Linked DNA regions of Homo sapiens: all the other regions are reported to be linked to region 5. The links are microRNA targets in miRTarBase. Many come from high-throughput screens and were not tested one by one. Region 5 holds a microRNA gene; each other region holds the end of a gene's coding sequence.

Evidence for each region. Region 5 holds the annotated microRNA hsa-miR-499b-5p (ACAGACUUGCUGUGAUGUUCA, at 3,121-3,141, opposite strand). A microRNA usually pairs through its seed, bases 2 to 8, with sites in the 3' UTR of a target mRNA and lowers its output. Matches are read on the target gene's strand: a 7mer-m8 pairs with bases 2 to 8, a 7mer-A1 pairs with bases 2 to 7 and ends in A, and an 8mer does both.
Region 1: the mRNA of TRIM33 is a reported target of hsa-miR-499b-5p. Seed matches in the 3' UTR shown: 7mer-m8 at 660-666.
Region 2: the mRNA of KCTD6 is a reported target of hsa-miR-499b-5p. Seed matches in the 3' UTR shown: 8mer at 824-831.
Region 3: miRTarBase lists POP4 as a target of hsa-miR-499b-5p. Seed matches in the 3' UTR shown: 7mer-A1 at 1,268-1,274.
Region 4: miRTarBase lists ZNF449 as a target of hsa-miR-499b-5p. Seed matches in the 3' UTR shown: 7mer-m8 at 2,566-2,572 and 7mer-A1 at 2,620-2,626.

The regions. Positions count from the first base shown.
Region 1 is chr1:114,393,603-114,398,106 of GRCh38, reverse strand. TRIM33 (tripartite motif containing 33) reads left to right here. Exons shown (of 20, transcript NM_015906.4): 19 at 117-167; 20 at 247-4,504. The coding sequence ends at 459. Among named protein-coding and RNA genes, the nearest start is that of TRIM33, 120 kb to the left of the region's middle.
Region 2 is chr3:58,501,046-58,505,549 of GRCh38, forward strand. KCTD6 (potassium channel tetramerization domain containing 6) reads left to right here. Exons shown (of 3, transcript NM_001128214.2): 3 at 1-1,311. The coding sequence ends at 587. ACOX2 (acyl-CoA oxidase 2) reads right to left here. Exons shown (of 15, transcript NM_003500.4): 15 at 4,091-4,241. The coding sequence ends at 4,179. Among named protein-coding and RNA genes, the nearest start is that of KCTD6, 11 kb to the left of the region's middle.
Region 3 is chr19:29,614,964-29,619,467 of GRCh38, forward strand. It overlaps POP4 (POP4 ribonuclease P/MRP subunit), which reads left to right. Exons shown (of 7, transcript NM_006627.3): 7 at 281-2,274. The coding sequence ends at 417. Among named protein-coding and RNA genes, the nearest start is that of POP4, 11 kb to the left of the region's middle.
Region 4 is chrX:135,360,374-135,364,877 of GRCh38, forward strand. ZNF449 (zinc finger protein 449) reads left to right here. Exons shown (of 5, transcript NM_152695.6): 5 at 1-3,040. The coding sequence ends at 703. Among named protein-coding and RNA genes, the nearest start is that of ZNF449, 18 kb to the left of the region's middle.
Region 5 is chr20:34,987,323-34,991,826 of GRCh38, forward strand. It overlaps MIR499B (microRNA 499b), which reads right to left and starts at 3,150; the gene lies at 3,078-3,150. MYH7B (myosin heavy chain 7B) reads left to right here. Exons shown (of 45, transcript NM_020884.7): 17 at 235-353; 18 at 443-592; 19 at 770-940; 20 at 2,418-2,597; 21 at 2,692-2,824; 22 at 2,912-2,988; 23 at 3,416-3,503; 24 at 3,682-3,799. It overlaps MIR499A (microRNA 499a), which reads left to right and starts at 3,054; the gene lies at 3,054-3,175.

The DNA.
Region 1 (4,504 bases), not on the chromosome of region 5:
AGCAATTTGTTCTCCCTAGTATGGCTGACTTTTCGTCGCCAATCCTATGCAGTCTCATAACTTTAGAAAGGATTATAATTTCCCTTTTTTTTTTTTGACTCTGGTATCCTTTTTAGATGATGAAAGTTGTTCAAGTTTATGCAGACACACAAGAGATTAATTTGAAGGTAAGCTTTTCAGACCATGCAAACTTGGTGAAGGAATATGCATTACCAATAGGTGAATATTCCTATCTTTTGCTTGCAGGCTGATTCAGAAGTAGCTCAGGCAGGGAAAGCAGTTGCATTGTACTTTGAAGATAAACTCACAGAGATCTACTCAGACAGGACCTTCGCACCTTTGCCAGAGTTTGAGCAGGAAGAGGATGATGGTGAGGTAACTGAGGACTCTGATGAAGACTTTATACAGCCCCGCAGAAAACGCCTAAAGTCAGATGAGAGACCAGTACATATAAAGTAAAATGACATGGATTTAAATCAATTGTTTAAAAAAAAAAAAACGAAAAAAAAAAAAAAAACACAAAAAACCCAGAAAACTTTTAAGTGTTGCTGGAATATCCTGCCTACAGTGGGCACCTCCTTGAAGAAGCTGATAGCTTTTACACAGTATTAGATTGAAATAATGGACAGAAACACATTCTTGTCAAGAAAGGGGGAGAGAAGTCTGTTTGCAAGTTTCAAAGCAAAAAGCAAAAGTGAAATGATTTGAGGATTTCTGTTCTAATGGAGATGATTCTCTGATTGTTAGAAATGGCAAATATTGATGATTGTGTGCTATTGATTGGTGCAGGATACTTGGTATACGAGTAAATACTTGAGACTCGTGTCACTTGATAAATTTTCTTTTTGGACTAGGTCGCACAGTTATTAAAACAACTTTTAACCCTCCCCCTTCACACACATACATATCAGGTTGTTTTCTAGTTAAAAACCCAAGTAGCTCAGATTCTACTTTAATGTCAGTGCAGATTTGCATTGAATCATGCCATTATGTTTTTTCTCATTTTTATGCTGTTGGGTCTTAGTTTTTAAATTGATATAAAGAACTCAGCAATGGTTTTATTTTCTACTCATACTTAGGGTTTAGGAAACACTACCACTAGTTATCATTTAATCAACTTCAATGGTCTACTGAAACAAAAATGGTAACTTTTCATTAGTGGATTATTTAGAGTTATAGTAGTTGTTTCCAGAAAACACTTCCTCACAATTGTACTTCCCAATCAAATCATGTGATCATACAGTTATTCCCATGAAAGGCAGAATGTTTGTTTCAAAATTAATCTAGTTTTCTGTACATTTAAATTTGAGAAGGTGACAACTGGCTCTTTTCCAGTCTTCCTTCATGTCAGTTTTCTGATAGACCACTATTGGCAAACAGTATCTGTCAACTACCAAATGTGTAAAATTTTCTGTATTTCACTTTGTCTTATTTGTAAATAGTGAACTAAAACTTTTGGCAGATCAGCAACATTTGCTGAGCCTGTTTTTTAAGCTAATGTGTATTCTTACTAATGTTCCTATCAAGAATGGATTTGTAATATATGCTGTCTATTTCTAATGTTCACATTCATATTTTGAGGTTCTATCTTATTTTAATAGAGAACAGACTTCTCAAAAAATCTTCAGAAGCAGCTTATTATTGAAATATCGAAATATTGAAATAAACCCGGTGGGGTTAGATTACTCATCTGTCCACCAAGTGGGACATTTGCATGGACTGGGGGCTTAAAGGACTTAGAAGAGACCTGTAAGTAAATCCTGAAAATGAGCCAATCCCCACTTGAATGGTTACTGGAGTAAACCCACCTTTACCACCCCAATTACAGCACCCGAGGCCGATAAACCAACTTGGCTCTGGTTCATTTTTCTTTTCTTCATTTGTGATGCTCAGATTCAAAATGTGTGTTCTACACTGTTACAGGCTTCTCTTTTGTTTGATTAAAGATTTTAGTCCTACTTTTGTATGGACACATTAGAATATTCAGAGACCAAAATAGAAGAATTTGCTGTTAGATATTTTTCAGAAGTCAGCAGATTTGTGGCAAATCATTTATTTGCCTTTTTAAAAATTCATTTAAGCAGTTCAGAGAGTAGACTACTCAGAAAATTATTTCACGTAATTGTCTAAGAGGTCAATATTTTTTAATGCATATTGAATCAAATAAAGTGCTCTAAAGAAATTATTATACAAATTCCTTTGGGTTGTTTTTCTTTTCTTAACAAGGGGTGGGGGTAAACAGGAATATGATTCAGGCTTTCTGGTTGTGTATTTAAAGAGTATTGATTTTATTATTACTATTGATTTACTTTATTCCTGGCTTCCTTTTCACTTTTCTTTCAATTTTTAAAAAATAATTTAAGCCGTTGAAAATATACCAAACTGTTGAAACATTTTACTCAAATTTTAAATTCCTAAAAATGTTTTTTAATAAGAGGGAGAAAATTATTTAAAAATACTTATGCCTATGCCAATTTCCCTCTTTTTTCACAAAATCCATGATTTCAGTTTGTAAGTAGACATATATCTAAGGGCACATTTTTGGAAAGTGAGGAATAGCAGCAGTATAACTTCATTTTGTCAGGCCTTTGAGTTCTAATATTTTGTATTGCTCTTCAAATGGATCCTTTTAAAAAAATTGTAGATAATGAGTCATAAATAGATTCTGCCAACTGAGGGGAGAAACATTTTAAGTAAATATTTTTCAGTATTTGGGGCCTTAAAAAATAATTGTGTTTCCTTAAAATTACATGTTAGATAGAGTTTTTAGGTTTTTTTGGTTTTAAGATTGGTTAAAGCAATTTAAAAGCCACTTTTTTGTCAACATTTAATAGCCTCCACTTCTGTTAAGATAATGTATACTGCTGAGGAATTACTATTAATAGCTATCAACATACCACCATTAAATTAAGGTATTCACTTTAGATTTTTTATTAAAGCTTTTTTCTTGCACACTGATCGTTGTGTTTCTAAGCTGATTTTTTCAGCTCTAATATACCTATGGTTAAAAAGTATAAAAACTTAAATTGATATTTAGATATATGTTTTCCTATTAGTTTATGTTTTAAAAAGACAAAATTGTATCTGTCAGTCCCTGAAGGCAGTTTGTTTTTATACTCTCTCACATTTGTATTTGTTTTTTAAATGGCAGTATTTTAGAAGATTTGGAGAAAAGTCCACATAATAATGTTTTCTTAAAAGCTTTTAAAGTTTTTGCTGTACTTCAATTTACTTCTTCCATCAGAAAACTAAGAACAAAGTGTTGCTCAGTCTGTTCCGCTGACCTAAATTTGTGTTTTCAGCACTTGGCTCAGCCAATTCACTGAGTGAAGGAATTGCTTTATGAGGCAAAGCATGTGAAAGTTCTAAAGTATGGTTAGATTGTAGGTCGTGCTCTATATGGAAACATCAAACCATTACTACAGAGAAATGATAAGGCATTGGATCCACTATTGAAATTATTATTTTTGGATCAACAAGTTGGTACTTTCTGACTTCTGTATCTTAACATAAGGGAATTTTAGGTAATGCTAAGTCAGTTGTCTCATTTTTTGTGATAAGTTTTGGAATTTTTAGTTAATTGAAATAAATAATGCTTTTAAATAGAAGTAAAAGGTTTATAAGTGTGCAAATTGTAGATTTATCAATTACCTCAGCAGGTATCCTGCCATGTAATTATTAGTGATTAGTGTTAATAAGATAATAGATTCAGGTCTTCCAACTATGCCCTTGGATTGTGGCCTACTGTATGTTATTAAATGGTCTCTTACTATCCAAAATGGGAGTAGATGCTGTGGCCCCGTCTCCCTTGGCTTTTACGTCCCATATCCACCCCCATTCATGTACAACATGTGAAATATAAAAATCTCATTTCTTGTCAAAATCAGCACTGCTTATTTGCATACTCAGCATCGGATCAGTGAGTAGTTTTATAAAAAATCCACGCACCCAACTCCCTTAGTTAAAACAGATTCTTAATTCATACCATGAATTCTTAATTTCTGTACCATCTATGTTAATGATCTGCTGAAGGTGACTCAAGATTTTCAAGGTGTAATACAGTTTGATCATGTACCGGACCTGGATATTTAATTTTTTTTCCCTCACAGTTAATCTCCTCCTTGATAAAGCAATAACACTGCTTTGAGTCTGTTGCCTAATAGCATGTCAGAATCCTCTCCTGGATGGTGATTTTATAGGAAAGTTTGTATGCATATCACCCAGTCTATCTTTTAAAAATTAAGAAATTTAAATGTATGCTGGAAGTAATGACACTATATTGTGGCATTTTATTTTAAAAATTGGGGAAAGTTGCATATTTTTTTAAAAGTAAGTGTTTGAGTAAAAAAATTGAAGGTACTTTTTTAAGGAAAAAAATTTATATGCCACAGTTTACATAGACATTTCAGATTCAACACGTACTCTTGAATATAATGGTTTCTTTTACTTGGTCAAAATGCATGTATAGCATTTCTTTCATCTTAGTTCCTTGTGTTTGCCTATG
Region 2 (4,504 bases), not on the chromosome of region 5:
GGGGGGACTTCCCCACAGCTCGAGACCCTCAAGGCAATTACTTTATTGATCGAGATGGACCTCTTTTCCGATATGTCCTCAACTTCTTAAGAACTTCAGAATTGACCTTACCGTTGGATTTTAAGGAATTTGATCTGCTTCGGAAAGAAGCAGATTTTTACCAGATTGAGCCCTTGATTCAGTGTCTCAATGATCCTAAGCCTTTGTATCCCATGGATACTTTTGAAGAAGTTGTGGAGCTGTCTAGTACTCGGAAGCTTTCTAAGTACTCCAACCCAGTGGCTGTCATCATAACGCAACTAACCATCACCACTAAGGTCCATTCCTTACTAGAAGGCATCTCAAATTATTTTACCAAGTGGAATAAGCACATGATGGACACCAGAGACTGCCAGGTTTCCTTTACTTTTGGACCCTGTGATTATCACCAGGAAGTTTCTCTTAGGGTCCACCTGATGGAATACATTACAAAACAAGGTTTCACGATCCGCAACACCCGGGTGCATCACATGAGTGAGCGGGCCAATGAAAACACAGTGGAGCACAACTGGACTTTCTGTAGGCTAGCCCGGAAGACAGACGACTGATCTCCGACCCTGCCACAGGTTCCTGGAAAGACTCTCCAGGAAATGGAAGATACTGATTTTTTTTTTTAAATCACAGTGTGAGATATTTTTTTTCTTTTAAATAGTTGTATTTATTTGAAGGCAGTGAGGACCAGAAGGAAGTTTTGTGCTTTGGCAGACTCCTCCATGTTTTGTTCCCTTCCCCCTGAGTATGCATGTGCCTGTTCAGAGTCTCCAGATACCTTTTTTATAAAAAGAAGTCTGAAAATCATTATGGTATATAATCTACCCTTAACAGAGCTTTTCTTATTACAGTGCTAAAATGATTTCTGATAAAATGGTCCCTAACTCAACTAGAAGGCTAAAAATACAAGAATGAAAGAATAAGCAGAGTACTCATGATGCCTTTGAGAAAAATCAAAACATCATGTAGGGTGACCTAGTTTCCAAACCAATAAATAAGTAGTATTGTAATATTAAAGGAAAACTGTTCCAATCATTTAAAAGTACTTATTAAGTACTGCTTTTTACAGTTATGACAACTGTTTCTTTCTATGCATATAAATCAAGGAACCAAATATCTGTAGCCATGGAAATGTCTGACTAGAAATATTTATATTGAATTCTGAATACAAAATGTCCCTGTGGTAGAAAACTTACTCTTTATGCCTGGTGCAGTATAATTCCCAAGTGTACTGTCTACCAGAAAAAAAAAACAAAACTAATAAAAAATGAAATATGAAAATTAAGTTTGTATTTATTGATTATTATTACTTAAGGGGAGAAAATCATATTTCTTGTCTAAAATATGCATTGTTTATGTCCCAGTGTTTACTGCCCATAGCACATTTGTATTTGATTTGAGAGGACACAGTGGGATCTTAGGTTGCAGTTTATAAGAACTGTTGCGTCACTGAAACAAGGATGGATGGAATTATTAATTTTGACTAAAAGGGTGCATATTTGAACAGTGAACATACAGTTTTTCATATTTTTTCAAAAGAATTTATGTTGAAGGTTACAGATTTTACTTTAATTGCCCACAGTTCTATGACCATTATTTCAGTTTTGTGCTAAGCACAGGAACAAAATGACTTTAGCCCTTTATGCTCATGTTTTGTGGTAATCGACAAATGTATTTTGTTAACAAAGTTAAGTTTATTTCTGAAGAGAAGAAACAAACTGCAGTGAATGAATGACCTAGAACGGTTGGAGAAATGCACGTACTTGGAGAAATACACGTACTTTTATTTATTTCACTGTAGTCTTATTTTGCATAGTTCATGTGCTTCTATTTCTTGAAAGTAACTCATAGGAAGGATTATTTTAATTGTACTGAGACTTCCTACTTTGTTAGACCACAGTATAAAAGGAAGTCATGTAATTTATTCCCTATTTTCTAAGGGAAGAGTGGAGCTCTGAGGCTGTGTGCCCTGGGGCAAGCAGGCCACTCCTTTTCTCCTTCTCTCTGTGAGAATATTCTGAGGTTCTCTCTCTGCAAGGAAGATGACAACACTTCCTTATGTCTATTTTTGCCCACGTCTCTGAAAATTTATTTTAAAATGTGACAAATGACCCACATCCAGAAACCTGTAATTACCCTATTTTCACCATCTTCAAACTAAGATCCTTTGATGTTATTGACAGGTTGCTGTGGTTTCAGTAAATCAATATACGAGTACAAGGTTATCATTTTGGAAAATTATCTTGTATTTAAAATTGATTTGATAGTTACCTTAAAAAAAAAAAAGGCCCAACCAGTTACGTGTTGTTGAGCTAGCTGAGGTCAATATGAAATAAAATGATTTGGGTTGAAAACAAGTGGGGAAATAGGAATAATACTAGTTTCCAGTTTTTATTTTTATTTTATTTTTAAATGATTTTTATTTATTTATTTTTGAGACAGAGTCTCACTCTTGTCACCCAGGCTGGAGTGTAGTGGCGCGATCTTGGCTCACTGCAACCCGTGCCTCCCAGGTTCAGGTGATTCTCCTGCTTCAGCCTCCTGAGTAGCTGGGATTACAGGTGTGCGCCACCATGCCCGGCTAATTTTTGTATTTTTAGTACAGATAGGGTTTCACCATGTTGACCATGCTGGTTTTGAACTCCTGACCTCAGGTGATCCACCTGCCCTGGCCTCCCGAAGTGCTGGGTTTACAGGTATGAGCCACTGCGCCCATCCCAAGTTTTTAAAAGTTAAAAACTTATGAGGCCTCTTCCTTGTCCTGTTTACTGGAGATAAGTTTGCTTTTGGTAAATTTTCTCAAATTTACTGATTATTAACAATGAAATGATTGTTTATATGAGTAAATTAGGAAAAGTAGCCAGCTGAATTTTTTTTTTTTTTTTTTTTTTTTTTGCCATTTTACTTGTCTAGTGACATTTAGAGTGTTTTGTCTAATTGGGCAATTGAAAATGATATGAAAAATGTAGCTTCATTTTATTTGGGTAACTTGAGACAGTTATGTCTTTTAATGAAATTTTAAATCATCACTGTGGAAGAGTTGATTTTTAAAAAATGATAGTTGCATTCTTAGAGCTGTATTTTATTTAGATTACAGCAAGTATACGCACTTAGGAGGATTGTGTGTGTGCATGTATGTGTGTCCTTTTAAACCCAAGGATAAATGTGTGCGAAAAACACACTAACTAATGAGCCTATTGGCTTTTGCTAGATCTACAGCAAAATCCTTGTATTTAACCAAATAGATGCTATAAATGGACAGTGGTACGGTTTTTTTACTGTGGGAAATTTCTTTCTTTTTCTTTTTCGAGATAGGTTCTTACTCTGTTGCTCAGGCTGGAATGCAGTGATGTGATCACGGCTCACTGCAGCCTCAACCTCCTGGGCTCAGGCAATCAGCCTCCCTATAGCTGGGACCACAGGCATGTACCCCCATGCCTGGCCAGTTTTTTTTTTTTTTTTTTTTTTGAGGCGGACTCTCGCTCTGTCACCCAGGTTGGAGTGCAGTGGCGCGATCTCGGCTCACTGCATCCTCCGCCTCCCGGGTTCACACCATTCTCCTTCTTCAGCCTCCCAAGTAGCTGGGACTACAGGCGCCCACCACTACGCCTGGCTACTTTTTTTGTATTTTTAGTAGAGACGGGGTTTCACCGTGTTAGCGAGGATGGTCTCGATCTCCTGACCTCGTGATCCACCTGCCTCGGCCTCCCAAAGTGCTGGTATTACAGGCGTGAGATAGTTATTTTTGTAGAGATGGCATCTCTCTATGTTGCTCAGGCTGGTCTCGAACTTCTAGGCTCAAGTGATCCTCTCATCTTGACCTCCTAATGTGTTGGGATTACAGGCATGATCCACCACGCCCCACTGGAAATTGCAAACACATTCAGAAGTAGAGAGGATAGTGTAATGAACACTCATGTACCTGCCCATTGACCAGCTTCAACAACTGTTCACTTTGGCTTTTTTCTCCTATGGATTATTTTGAAGTAAATCACAGATATTATTTCACATATATCACTTCAGACTGTATCTAAAAGATAATGACTCTAAAACATAAATATCTAATTTAAAATTTTAATGTTGCATATATGCCATAGTACCATTATCACATGATGGTGCTGGTTGCTTCTTGAATACTGTTGGTTATTTCATAGCTTGGATCTCCAACTTTGTAAAAGTGGTCTTATATATTCCTCATAGGCAGGGTTCTCCTGTTTGTAGAAAGAAACGCATTATTAACACAGTACATTTCTGCCAGGATTAATGACTTTCACTTTCAAATTAAGTCTCTAGCTTCAAAAAGTAACATTACGTAAGATTCTTAATTTTAAAAATTATTTCTAAGACTCATTTTGTGTGAACATATGGAGAAACATTTTTTCCAAAGGGCATCCTTCCTTTTCTCATGCAGATTTTAAATTGTGGATGCAGGTGGCCAATTAAAAACACAGCTTATCACTTGCTTTTGGAATTT
Region 3 (4,504 bases), not on the chromosome of region 5:
TCTGGCAGGTGTTCTGGGACTTTCTGGTTCTGGGAATTTGGTGTATAGCCTTTGACCCTGAAGATTAGGTGCCAAGCTACATTTAGCATGTGACTAGATTGACCTGTGGCAGAATAACCACAGGCAACCCTAATGCCCCTCCCCTTGTGGGTTTCCCGTTTCCTATTAGCTTATTTTTTTCATTCAATGTGTTCTGAATAATATTCTACCTAAAAGTAAAATATTAATAAATATTTTTCCTCATCTTTTTTTCTCCTGCCTTTTTTTTTTTTTTTTTCAGTTATCCCCAAGCTAAACTGCGTGTTCACTGTGGAAACCGATGGCTTTATTTCCTACATTTACGGGAGCAAATTCCAGCTTCGGTCAAGTGAACGGTCTGCGAAGAAGTTCAAAGCGAAGGGAACGATTGACCTGTGAATTCTTTGCCGTCTAAGGCAGTTGTTTATGACAGCTGAAAACTGGACACTCCCTAAATGTCCACCTTTCAGTGAAGAGATAGTTAAGCCAATTCCATTTATAGACCACCTCCAGCCAGTGACGCTCCGAGTTGAGGATGTTGAACAACATGGGAAGGTCGCAGCGTACTAAGTGAAGAAGTCAGAGGACAGAGGAATTTCTCTTTCTAGGAGATTTTCATTTTGTGTGACTCCCATGGGGAGGAACAGACTGGCAGGAAGCACACCGGGGTTAACACTGGTTGACTTGAATAGGATTATTCGATTTTTAAAAATACTTTTCCATGTTTTCTGAGTGCTCTATGATAAATCAGTTGCATCTGTGATAATACAGTACATATGTGGACATAAACAGGGATCAAATAAAGGAGGTATTGCTGCAGTCCAGCCAGGTTGAAAGGGAAGGGGGGTCCCCAAAGGTCCATTGGATGGCAGGTGTCTACAGAGGCTCGCCTTTGGGTGGAACTCTGACCCACCTAAGGTTTACTTTGCTATTTCAGGAAGGTTGAAGAGGATTGAAGGGTGAGTTGCTAAGTGACTTAGGGTTTATTCACTTCAGGAATCATAGCTGGGGTGGACCCCAGGAGCAGAGTACTGCATGCAGCTGTGCCCATGCATGGTTGCCCCAGCGTAGTGAGATGGGACCTGCCGCAGCATGCCCACTCCTGAGCTGCCAGGCTGAGCCATGGAGGACTGAAAGGAGGTCGCCCGGCATCACCTCCCGAGGTGAGACCTGCTGCAAAAGCCAAGCCAGCAGCATTGACGCCCTTTGATATCTTCGCCATTTTTGCTGCTGAAAGACTTGGCTTTTCAGTCTGACCCTGGCCCTCTGTGACCATGTGTCTGTAAAGCCAGTGGGTCAGGCCCTTCCATGCAGGGCCAGAGGAAAAGCGGGCCCAGGGCTGCAGTGAGAGCGGGGCAGGGGACCAGCCTACCAGATGGGTTGGAAACATGGCTCAGAAGGACCAACTACCCCTTCCCTTTGAGGAGCAAGTCTCTGCCGATCAGCAAGGCAAGGCCAGGAGCCCTCCTGGCGAAAGGCAGGCCACAAATCTGTTCTCCCCCAGGAGAAGTAGCAGTGCCAGGGCTTTGCGTTTCTGGTAACTTCCACCCAAACCACACCAGAGAGAAACACCGTAGTGGAGAAGGGAAGTGGGAGCGCTGACTGCTGTGTGCCAGGAGAGTAGAAAGGCCCAGGTCTGTGCCACCACCCCTCCCCAAAGCTCAGTGCACCCAGAGTCTCACAGGGACCAACACGGTGCCTCGGTCCTGCTTCCATCCATGCAAGTGTCCTCCGCTCACCAGGGTGTTCTGAGGCAGCTCAAGTGCTCTCCCCCAAGCAGCACGCAGTCACCGCTGCCAGTGATGAACACACGCACGGGCTAGGCACATGGAGCCCAAGCACACTGCCACCTCGGACACGGGCCCCGGCCCAGCGACTGCCTTGTGGTGTGGCCGTCCTCATCTGCCACAGGAAGACAGACTTCGAGGGACCTCTTGCCTAAGGCCTCGCTGACTCAAGGGTAGATTGAGATTTGGACCTAATAGGCTCCAGAACTGTGCTTTGAGCTACAGGGTGGCTGCAGGATGAGACGGATGCAGTTCAAAGTGCAGGATGTGCTGCCTTTATTACCTGCTTTCCCGCTGAGCAAATCCCTGTCTTGAGTGGGAAGTGGCATCTATTCCCCCAGCCATCTGAAAATGCTGTGTTCATAACCAAATAGGTGCTGTAGCTTCCTAGCCATCCCGCTCTTACCCGCCCCTCTGCAATGTAAAAGGCGTCCACTGTTGTGTAAATACACAGTTGCTTTCCAGAAAAGTTGTAGGTACCACTTGCCATGTGAAATCTGTTTTTCATTTAGCTCAGACTCAAGTTTCTGTGTGAGTGGCGGTTTAATTTGTAGATACCTCTCCCTCTCCCCCAAGGAGACATGGTGAGGGTGCTCACCGGCCACTAAGCTGCCGCTGTGCCTGCCTGTTTCTAGGATACACTGTTGCCCTCATGGCCCACCCAGGGGTCATATCTCCCAGGTAGAGGAGGGAAAGGGGAGGGCCCAGCTGGGCGGGACATGGTTCCTGATGAGGAACAGCTGCAGAAAGCATGATCTGAGGCCCAGGGGCCGTGGCAGGGGCCAGGGCTGCCATGTCTCCACAGGCTGCGGCACAGCTTGTCATGGAGGGTAATGTGGTGCTTTTTGGCCCGATCTCTCCCATGTCCACTGTCCAAGGAGCAGGACCCTGGCAGAGCTGAGGCCTTGGCCATGTGGTCCCACGGGAGACAGAGCCACATTCGACTTGTGTAAGCCTCCATGCACCAGAGAAAGTGCCAAAGAGGAGAGAGTGGTTAGCAACTCAGGACAGGACCCAGAGGCTGCAGGACTGGGAGACATCAGCCCAGCGACCCACTGCTCAAAGAGTGGGGCCCAGGGGCCCTTTACATCTTCCCAGTGCCCAGCTGCCACACAGGGTCTGCAGAGGATAGGCCAGAGCCTCGGGGGAAAGGATGAGGTTCTTGGAGGAGAAAGGACAGCGAAAGGACAGCGTGGGCCATGGCTGATGTATCCATCTGCTCTAATCTTCATAACAAAATGCCACACACTGGGGCTGCAGCATTTTCTCACAGCTCTTGAGGCTGGAAGCCAAAGATCAAGGTGCTGGCAGGGCTGGTTTCTGGAGAGGCCTCTCCCTTCTTGTCCTCACATGGCCTTTCCTCCCTGTGTGCAAGGAAAGTGATCCCTCGGGTCTTTTCCTTGTAGAAGGACGCCAGTCCTATTGGATCAGGCCGTGTTCTTATGAACTCGTGAAAGTCTCCAGACAGTCACAGTGGGGGCAAGGGCTTTATCATATGAATTTGGAGACCCAAGTCAGTCCACAGCCACCCCGAAGCTTTCCCAGCCAGGACAGCCTGGTTGTGCCTCCCAGAAAGACTCCAACAGCTACCTGACTCCCAACCTCAGACACTAGCCAGGCCTTCTCTTTCCCCCATATGGGCTGCTTGGACCACTAGCCAGTCCAGCCAGCCCCAATGCTGGCCCCTGAGCTGCCATCACCACTGGATTCTGTGACATGCTCATACAGGAACTTGGGTCCAGGGCTGCTCCCTCCAGTACCCGGGGCCCCTGAGCTGCCCAGTTCCCCTTCACTTTTGCAAACAGCTGAACTCCTCCTCCCGCTGGGGCCAGGCACAGTCTGGATGGGGGAGGAAATGCGTGTGCAGGTGGGCAGGATGGGCAGAGAAGTCTCCCTGGAGCAGGGGCTCCGGCTCTAGGCAGCTGTGGGTGTGAAGAGTGTATTCACACCAAGGCTCAGGGCAGGAGCCCGCAGAAGCATTGTGGAGGACCCAGGAAGGCAGGGGAAGCCTGCGAGGGTCTGCCCCCTGGGCTCAGGCAGGCAGGAGGAGAGGCCGGAAGGGGTATATGGCTGCCAGGAGTGGAGAGATGGCAGAGATGCTGGAAAAGCCCTAATCCATGGGGCAGGAGGTGGAGTTCTGCTGATCCATTCACGCAGTTCTGAAGTCTTGGGGACCTTGGTGCCGCCATCTGTCAAGTGGGGCCATTAGACTAGACCCAGCGTTCCTGGAATGGCATCCTGGAACTTCCCATATCAGAGTTAGTGGGTGCACATTCAGAGCAGCCAGACCCTGGGCTGCACCTCAGACCTACTGAATCAGCCTCTGGCGGCGGGACCCAGATAGCTGTGTGTTTACCTAAGACCCCAGCTGATCACTGATGTTTGAGGACGCTGGGCTCCAGATGGTGTCTAAAGTCTCTTCCAGCTCTGAGGTCTGGACTGTGATTTCAGACTTGGGACTCTCAGGCCAACGTTTTCTGGAGGCTGGGAAAGATCATCAAATGACTGATCTCCCAGGTTCCAAAGAGTAAACAGGAACATCCCTCCACAAAGCCGTAAATTCTGGTAAAAAAGCTCGCTTTCTGGACAATGGCTTTAGCTTTAATTTAGTTTGCATTTCTTAGCTATAATGTCTAATTAAGACATCTGTTAAATGTCTACAATATTAATAGAAGGGGTTCTAATAGAACTGTATTGGA
Region 4 (4,504 bases), not on the chromosome of region 5:
AAAACTGGTAGATCAGCAGAACCCCACTCTGGGAGAGACACCTGAGAACTCCAACTTGGAAGAACCTCTCAACCCTAAACCCCACAAGAAAAAGAGTCCAGGAGAGAAACCTCACCGATGTCCTCAGTGTGGAAAATGTTTTGCTCGGAAGTCACAACTTACTGGGCATCAGAGAATTCATTCAGGAGAAGAACCTCACAAATGCCCTGAATGTGGGAAAAGATTCCTTCGTAGTTCAGACCTTTATAGACACCAACGACTTCATACAGGGGAGAGACCCTATGAATGCACTGTATGTAAAAAGCGATTCACTCGGCGGTCACATCTTATAGGGCACCAGAGAACCCATTCTGAAGAAGAAACATATAAATGTCTTGAGTGTGGGAAAAGTTTTTGTCATGGATCAAGTCTTAAAAGACATCTGAAAACTCATACAGGTGAAAAACCTCATAGATGTCATAATTGTGGGAAAAGTTTTAGTCGACTGACAGCTCTTACTTTGCACCAGAGAACGCATACTGAAGAGAGACCTTTTAAATGTAATTATTGTGGGAAAAGTTTTAGACAGAGACCAAGCCTCGTTATTCATTTAAGAATCCACACAGGGGAGAAGCCATACAAGTGTACTCATTGTTCTAAAAGCTTCAGACAGAGAGCCGGCCTTATTATGCACCAGGTCACTCACTTTAGAGGACTTATTTAAGAATTGCTAAGGGAAACAGGTCTTACACAAATTGACACTAACTCAAAAAAAATCTTAACCTGCAGCAGGCTGTTTGTCTTGGAAGCTTTTGTTTGAGCTTATAAGAACATAGACAGCTTTTTTTTTTACTAGTTTTAAAACCCATCTTCCAAGGTATATGAATTCTAGAGTATTTATCTACTCCTGTGATTTTCTTAGATTTGATTTCTTCTGTCTGCACAACTCTTCTTTTTTTAATTACAATGAAAAATTTTGTGTTCCAAGGCAACTGTATCATAGGTGTAAACATAAAGCATATAAATTATGACAATCCTTTTAGAGGTAGGGTCAATATAGTGGATAAACCTGTCTATCAGACGTATTGATTATAGCAGTACTATAGTTATTCTGCTGTCATTATTAAAGATGATTATATTCATTCAAAGCTTTAGATGTGTCCCATGTGGCAAGAAAGGAGACAGTGAATTTTGTCAAACAATAAAAATGTGTCAGGAACACAAGGATGAAGGGGATGTCATTTGCCTGGTAAGAACTGGGTTATTTCCACTGAAATTTGTTATGTTTAAGGAAATTAAGATTTTAAGCTTGAAATTATACAAGCAGAATCTAATTTAATTTTGATTGACTGAAGAACCAGGGTCTTTTGCTCTCCTTTGGTATTTCACTCTCCTTTGGTATTCAATCATGTGTCTTTTAGTGCTTTTTAAAATTTTACCCATTCTTTAATTCAGCATCTCCCTATGTATGTGTCATAGAATACTTAGTTCTGCTAGATATTCTGCAAATATATTTGGGAATTACTTCCTGCTGTTTCGCCTTCTTAGGTTCATAGTACACATCAGCATATGAGAATCTCTGAGAGGTCCTCTAGAAAGGAGAGAAAAAGCACCTCTTTTGGCTCAATGTTTTCCAAACTTATTTGACCCCAAAACCTTTTTCATATACCCAATAATAAGCTACAGAACTAATATTCTGCAAATGTCTCTTGGAACACACTGCCTTAAACAGATATTTCTATAGCTGTCAGTATAGTTATGTTGCTCCCAAGCCTAGTTATCTCCAGTTGTTTTAAGGGTGTTATGAAAAATTCTTAAAATATATATGAATTTGTGTAACACACACAGAGACACACACACATACTACTTTAAGGGGGTGAGGATCATTAATTCAGATAATTTTTAAGTTTCCTAGTGATTCTCAATCTCTTTGAATTTTACTTACATTTACACACACACGCACACACATATGTATATACACATATCATTTTAAGAAGCTGAGGATCACTAATTCAGATAATGTATAAGTTTCCCAGTGATTCTCAACCTCTTTGAATTTTACTTATAATTACATACACACACACACTGCTACTTATATAAATGTTCTCATGTAATCATGGTAACAGCTCAAATTCCCAAAGCAAGGGAAGACTTCTCATTGTCAGTTAAACCTGTTAAAACATGAAAATATTCATTGAGCCTAGTTCCTTGTTATAAAATACAAGAAATAAGACATTCAGGCATTTTCCCTTTATGAAGATGTTCAGTCATCCTTTCCTTGAACTACAATTAGGAAAAGTATATGTCTTTATTCCATTGAAGTTCTCGAGAGTGATATAAATACTTTGGGGGGTATCTACTATGTGCCTAACTAGTCCTGTTCTAGGCTTAGTGGAAGCTAGTAAAGAAATATAATTCATGGATCAGGCTCATAAAGATTTTATAATATTTTTAGTTAAACAAGAGTTGGGAAACAGGTGGAGAATAATGCAAGAGAGTTTGTAATTAAGTGCCAATTATACCAATTGCTAGACCCAGGATGTATCTTTAATTCTTGTCATCCAGGTCAACATATGATGCTGCTATAAGTCTGGGGCTCAAATTGATATCCCAGTAGCAATAAACATATAATATAGGAGGAGTCTGAATGTAGAGATGAAAAATACAGAATGTAATGGCTTCTCTTTTCTCTCTTGTGGAATTGCATTCAAACCAGAACAGTGCCTTAGAATGGATGTGCCCAACTGCTCTGTATTTATGCAATATTTGAATAAAGCGGAAATGTATGTGCTCTTCCTGCTTCACTTGCACTAATTAATTATTTGAACAACTTAGAGCTTCTTCCCTGAACAGTGGCAACAAGCATGGCAATTGACTCTGTCCTCATCCCAAGTTGGAATCGCTTTTCTCTCTGCAACCATGGCACTGTGATTATGCATCATTTTTAGCATTTAATACAGTCCATTTTTGGCTAGTAGGGTTAGTTGCAATCATAATATGAGTTGCATCCTCCCTCTCATTTATATCAAATATACTTGACTAGATTTTTACAAGTTAGAGAATGTCTAATATTCTTTGTTACAGTGCCCTATATATAAGAATAAATATTTCTGGTATTGAATCAAGAAACACATGAAATAGTTCTTGGAAACAGATAACATATTTAGAACATTGCATGGATAATTATACTTCTATGTCTAATTGTACTTCTGAGCATTTCAAAAAGATAAGGGCAAAATACAGTACCTACCTCCTAGCTATTATAAAGGGGAAATTACAGTACCTACCTCAAAAGTACTATGAAGATTAAATGAAATATATTTTGCTCTGGCCCTACACACTGTAAGCTTTCAATAAATATCCCCGTATTATATTCTCATTTTTGTAGTTTAATGATAAAAGCATTTAAAGCTATAGATTTCTTCTCTTTATGGCTTTGGACATACTTCATAGCTTTTATATGTAATGTTCTTATTGATGATTTCAAAATGGTTGTTGTTTTCATTATAATTCCTCTTTGACTTAAGAGATATACAATGTTGCCATTTTCCTCTTAATTTTTGGTTTTGCTACATTGTGATTAGAGAACAAGTTTCATTCTATTTCTGCTTTGAAAGCTCATTTAGGCTTTTTTAAAGACCTACATTTTATAAAATTTGTTAAGTATCCTAAAACCTTAGAAAATAAGGGCTCTATAGGGTGCAAATTTAGAATAGAGCCTTGGACCGCTCAATTACTTTAATGTCTTTAGGCGTATTCTTGGTGTTTGTGAAGGGTTGGTGACATCAAGATCGAATTGCTCCCCATTCTGCCTCCCTGAACCTTTGTACTCCCCCTTCCCTTGGTAAGTTTTTTCCACCACCTTTGGTCTGTTCTGTGGATGTTATACAGCAATTGTTAGTAGCTGCCTGGGCATTGAGGCAGGCAGTTAAAACAGGAAGCTAAAGGACCTAGGGGAGACCGGGACTCTTCAAACCAGGCTGAGAACGCTCTCCTTCAGGATCCCATAGTTATTTGTCTTTCTGAAAGCAGAGAGAACCTGCACAGGGCACTTTGAGGTTTTTGCGACTGTGGCCCTCCTGAATTCTCAGGGATTGTTTCATAGTGTACTGAGGATGTTGTGTAGGCTAAAATCCAGAGAAATAGGGAATAAACAGGGGAACCAGCCCCCAAGCCTCCCCATGAGGTGGGGGAAGAGAGTCATTACACTTTGTCCTCTTGCACCTGCACTCACCATAGAATCCCCAAGAGAAACAGTCTTGAGCACCTCCAGAAAACTGAGTCATCTTTATTCCTATAACCCTCTCTCATTTTTAGCCTACTGATATGGGCTGAATATTCTCGTAAATAACTGAAGCTTACCCTTAAATCTGGGCCCAGCCCCCTGCTTCTTTTATAGTCCTCTGTAACAGATGTGAAATGGGTTGGTAAGAGAGCTCATCTCTTAGCCTCTCCTTAGCATTGATAATCAGTTTACTCAGTTCCCAATCCCTGAGACTTTAACCACTGGGATTGGAAGTGGTGG
Region 5 (4,504 bases):
GACCTCAGCATCCTGTCCATGATGGTTAACCCCAACTCTTGTCCACAACCTTTAACCTCAGTCTTACCTGGCCCTGCCTCCTCAGCTCCAAACCCTTACCCTCCTGAGGCTTTGTTTGCTAGCCCTGAACTTGACCCCTCTTAACTTCCCTCTCCTAGCCCCAGGCTGAGGCAGTAGAGCCCCTGAGTGCGCATGGTGGTGTCCTCCTCCCTTACCCCACTCGTGCCCTGCCAGGTGCTGACAAGGCTGCCTACCTGATGGGGGTCAGCAGTGGGGACCTCCTCAAAGGCCTTTTGCACCCCCGGGTGCGTGTAGGGAACGAGTACGTGACCAAGGGCCAGAGTGTGGAGCAGGTGAGCTGCCTGCAGGCCAAACCCATGGGGGACAGCCGGGCAGGGTCCCCTCCTTGCCAGGTCCCAGCCCAGCCTCCCTGCACCTCCAGGTGGTGTTTGCTGTGGGGGCTCTGGCCAAGGCCACCTATGACCGGCTGTTCAGGTGGCTGGTGTCTCGGATCAACCAGACCCTGGACACAAAGCTGCCCCGGCAGTTCTTCATCGGGGTTCTGGACATCGCTGGGTTTGAGATCTTTGAGGTGAGGACAGGCCCTCACCTTGGCCTCTGTTCTCTCCAAGGTAGAGGACATGGGCCTGTGGGGGGGCAGAAGCCCTGGCCTTCTGCCTGGAAGTTGGGGGTGAACTCATGCCCCTCCCCGGGCCTCCCTTTCCCCATCTGCGAGAGGTCTGCTGAGCCAGGCCCCTCCCTCTTGTAGTTCAACAGCTTCGAACAGCTGTGCATCAACTTCACCAATGAGAAATTGCAGCAGTTCTTCAACCAGCACATGTTTGTGCTGGAGCAGGAGGAGTACAAGCGGGAGGGCATCGACTGGGTCTTCATCGACTTCGGCCTTGACCTGCAGCCTTGCATCGACCTCATCGAGAAGGTGGGTGCCGCGGCAAGGTCACTTTGAGGAAGGGAGGGTGTGTGTGGTGAGCAAGCAGGGATGGATGACCATGGCTTGCATGGAAGCCTGCAAGTGTGCATGGAAGCGTGTGACTGTGCGTTGCAGTAAGCATGCATGTGAGTGTAGTTGTGACAGCGTTTATGTGCTTGTGTGTGAAAGGGCACGTGTGTGAGTGGGTGTGTTGGAGTTGACCATGAGTGAGCCTTGGTGAGTGTGTGAGCAGTGTGAATGCATGCATCCCAGTACTGTGGACAACAGCTCCTCCTGGGTGCTCAGAATTCTGCAGCTCACAAGGCCCTATTTGCAGCCACAATTTCACTGGATCCCTAGAACTGCCCTGGGTGCAGGGCAGGGTGTGTTTCCTTGTTTTTGTGATTGTGGAACATTATGTATATTTACCCATTGTACAAAGAATGGAAGAAAGAAAATTTGAAAAATTGGCAGGGGAAAAAATGTTTCTCCCCATTCCTATCACAGCCAGTCACATGACACTTAGGTTCATTTCCTCGAAATCCTTTATCCCTTTTTTTTTTTTTTTTTTTTTGAGATGGAGTCTCACTCTGTCGCCCAGGCTGGAGTACAATGGCACCATCTCAGCTCACTGCAACCTTCGCCTCCAGGGTTCAAGCAATTCTTATGCCTCAACCTCCCAAGTAGCTGGGATTACAGGCATGCGCCACCACACCTAGCTAATTTTTGTATTTTTAATAGAGACATGGCTTCACCATTTTGGCCAGGCTGGTCTCGAACTCCTGACCTCAAGTGATCTACCCACCTTGGCCTCCTAAAGTGCTGGGATTACAGGCGTGGGCCACTGCGCCTGGCCTATCCATTTTCTTTTATAGACACAGATTTCATTTCATATCCTACTTTTTCTCTGAAAATGTATTTTGAATGCTGCTCATGGCAAGAGTAGTTCATGCAGTGGATGAGTTTCATACGATGCATTTCTGCAGTCCCCTACAGCTGGGCGTTTAGGTGATTGACAGCTTTTTAAATATTATGTCAGCACTGAAGACATTCATCTTCCCACTCTGCAGGTTAGAAGACTGAGGCTTAGTGATGTCGGAGGGCCCCACAGCTAGTGAGTGAGGAAGCCAAAATGTGAACTTGATGGCTTTTTTTGACTTACCCCATGTTTGTGTGTGACAGCCATGGCTGTGGCGGGGGTGAGAGTGGGTACAGAGATGCCAGCTTGGGTTTGCCATTGTTAGAAGTGAAGATGACACCTCAGTGCTGCAGATTTTGCAGGAGGGGACTGGAGCCAAGCCACAAACTTTTCTCTGTTAGGAGATGGGTTCTTGGAGTGGGTGTGGTGTCTGACCATCCGGGGAGATGGCTGAAGCTGGGGATCTGGGAAGGCTCCCAGAAGGGAGGTGGCCTGGGGAACCAGGGGTTCAGTCCTTCCAGGATGGACTGGCTTGATGGTGGCTTTTCAAGCTCGTTCTGTTCCCAGCCACTGGGCATCCTGTCCATCCTGGAGGAGGAATGCATGTTCCCCAAGGCCTCAGACGCCAGCTTCCGGGCCAAGCTCTACGACAACCACGCGGGGAAGTCACCCAATTTCCAGCAGCCTCGGCCTGACAAGAAGCGCAAGTACCAGGCCCACTTCGAGGTGGTCCACTACGCAGGCGTGGTAGGTGCTTGCTGGAACCCCAGCCCTCGGCCAGGCTCCTCCCGCCCTGCTCCAGGTCTCCCACCCGGGCTCAGCACCTGACTTGTCTCTCCAGGTGCCTTACAGCATTGTGGGCTGGCTGGAGAAAAACAAGGATCCCCTGAATGAGACCGTGGTCCCCATCTTCCAGAAGTCACAGAATAGGCTCCTGGCGACTCTCTATGAGAATTATGCGGGCTCCTGCTCCAGTGAGTATGGAGGGACAAGATCTCCACTCTGACAGGGGCCCACAGAGCGACATTCCCTGGAGTGACCAGGCCCCTTGTCTCTATTAGCTGAGCCCCCCAAGTCTGGGGTGAAAGAGAAGCGTAAGAAGGCAGCATCGTTCCAGACGGTGTCCCAGCTGCACAAGGTAAGGCCCCATCTGGGAGACAGACCCTCCCTCTTGGCAGCCTCCAGCCCCGTCCTTCACCCCCTGCCCTGTCCCCTGTGCCTTGGGCGGGCGGCTGTTAAGACTTGCAGTGATGTTTAACTCCTCTCCACGTGAACATCACAGCAAGTCTGTGCTGCTTCCCGTCCCTACGCTGCCTGGGCAGGGTTTGTGGGGAAGGGGTGGGAGCCCTGGGGCTCTGGGAGGGACGGGGATTTGGCAGGGAAGTGAAGACTTTGGTGGTGGTGATGGGAGACAGCGAAGGGTCTCCCATCACCAGAATGAGAGTGAAAGAGCAAAAGTGCAGGGCACTTAGGGCCCTGCTCCCGTCTCGGTCCTGACCACTGCGGCATCCAATTCTGGTTCTCTGCCCCCTTTGTGCCTTTCCCTCACTCTTCCCCACTGCCAGGAGAACCTCAACAAGCTGATGACCAACCTGCGGGCCACACAGCCCCACTTCGTCCGCTGCATTGTCCCCAACGAGAACAAAACCCCAGGTAGTCACCCAGGGCTGGCCTGGCTGGGGCCGGGAGGCATCATGGGAAGGTGACAGGGCAGAGGCCGGGAGGCTGAGTACATCTTCCCCCTCACCTCGCAGGGTCTCCACTGCTGCTTTTTCTCTGGGGCCTGCGGGTGTGCCTGTTGACCTCTGACCTTTTCCCCTCTCACGTCCAGGGGTCATGGATGCCTTCTTGGTGCTACACCAGCTGCGCTGCAATGGGGTCCTGGAGGGGATCCGGATCTGCCGCCAAGGGTTCCCCAACAGGTTGCTCTACACCGACTTCCGGCAGCGGTGGGTGACCCCTTCCCCCTGCCTGCTGCTCCAGGTGGAGGCCTGAGGGGCTGGGCAGGACACACATATCAGAGCCCAACAGACGGTCCCCTGTCTGGAGGGGGAAGCAGGGACTGTGAGGGGCCTGGCCAGGTATCCCAGCAAGACATGGGGGTGGCTCAGACCTGGCCGGGGACTTGGGGAGAAGTGAATAGGCTTGGGGCAAATAGTGGAGGTGGAGCCTACAGGCCTCGCTGATAAGCTGGACATGGAATTCTGGATGCAGAAAAGACGAATGATTTCTAGTTTTGGGAGTGAGCAACCTGGGAGCTACCAGTGGTAGATTTACTGAGCTACAAAAACAGGGTTTTTTGATTTGGAGGAGAGGTGAAGGGATACTGGTTTGAGCTCTGTTTTGCGTGTATCAGGTTTGAAATGCCTCCAGCAGACATCCTAGAAAAGTCATGGGGGAGATTGGGATTATCAATCTGGAGCTCAGGGCAGCGGGCAGAAAGGATGCAGATTTGGGAGTTGAACGAGAATCATGTGGACGAGGCTTCATGAGACACCTGGCACATAGCAAGCACCTGGGCAGTGCTGCCAGCTCCTCCCCGTTCCCTCAATGGGCAACAAGCATCCATCGTTCCTTCTCCCTCCAGAAGTCATGGTGTCATCCACACTATCCTTTGTAAACAGAGGTTCACACAGATACCATACACGCACACA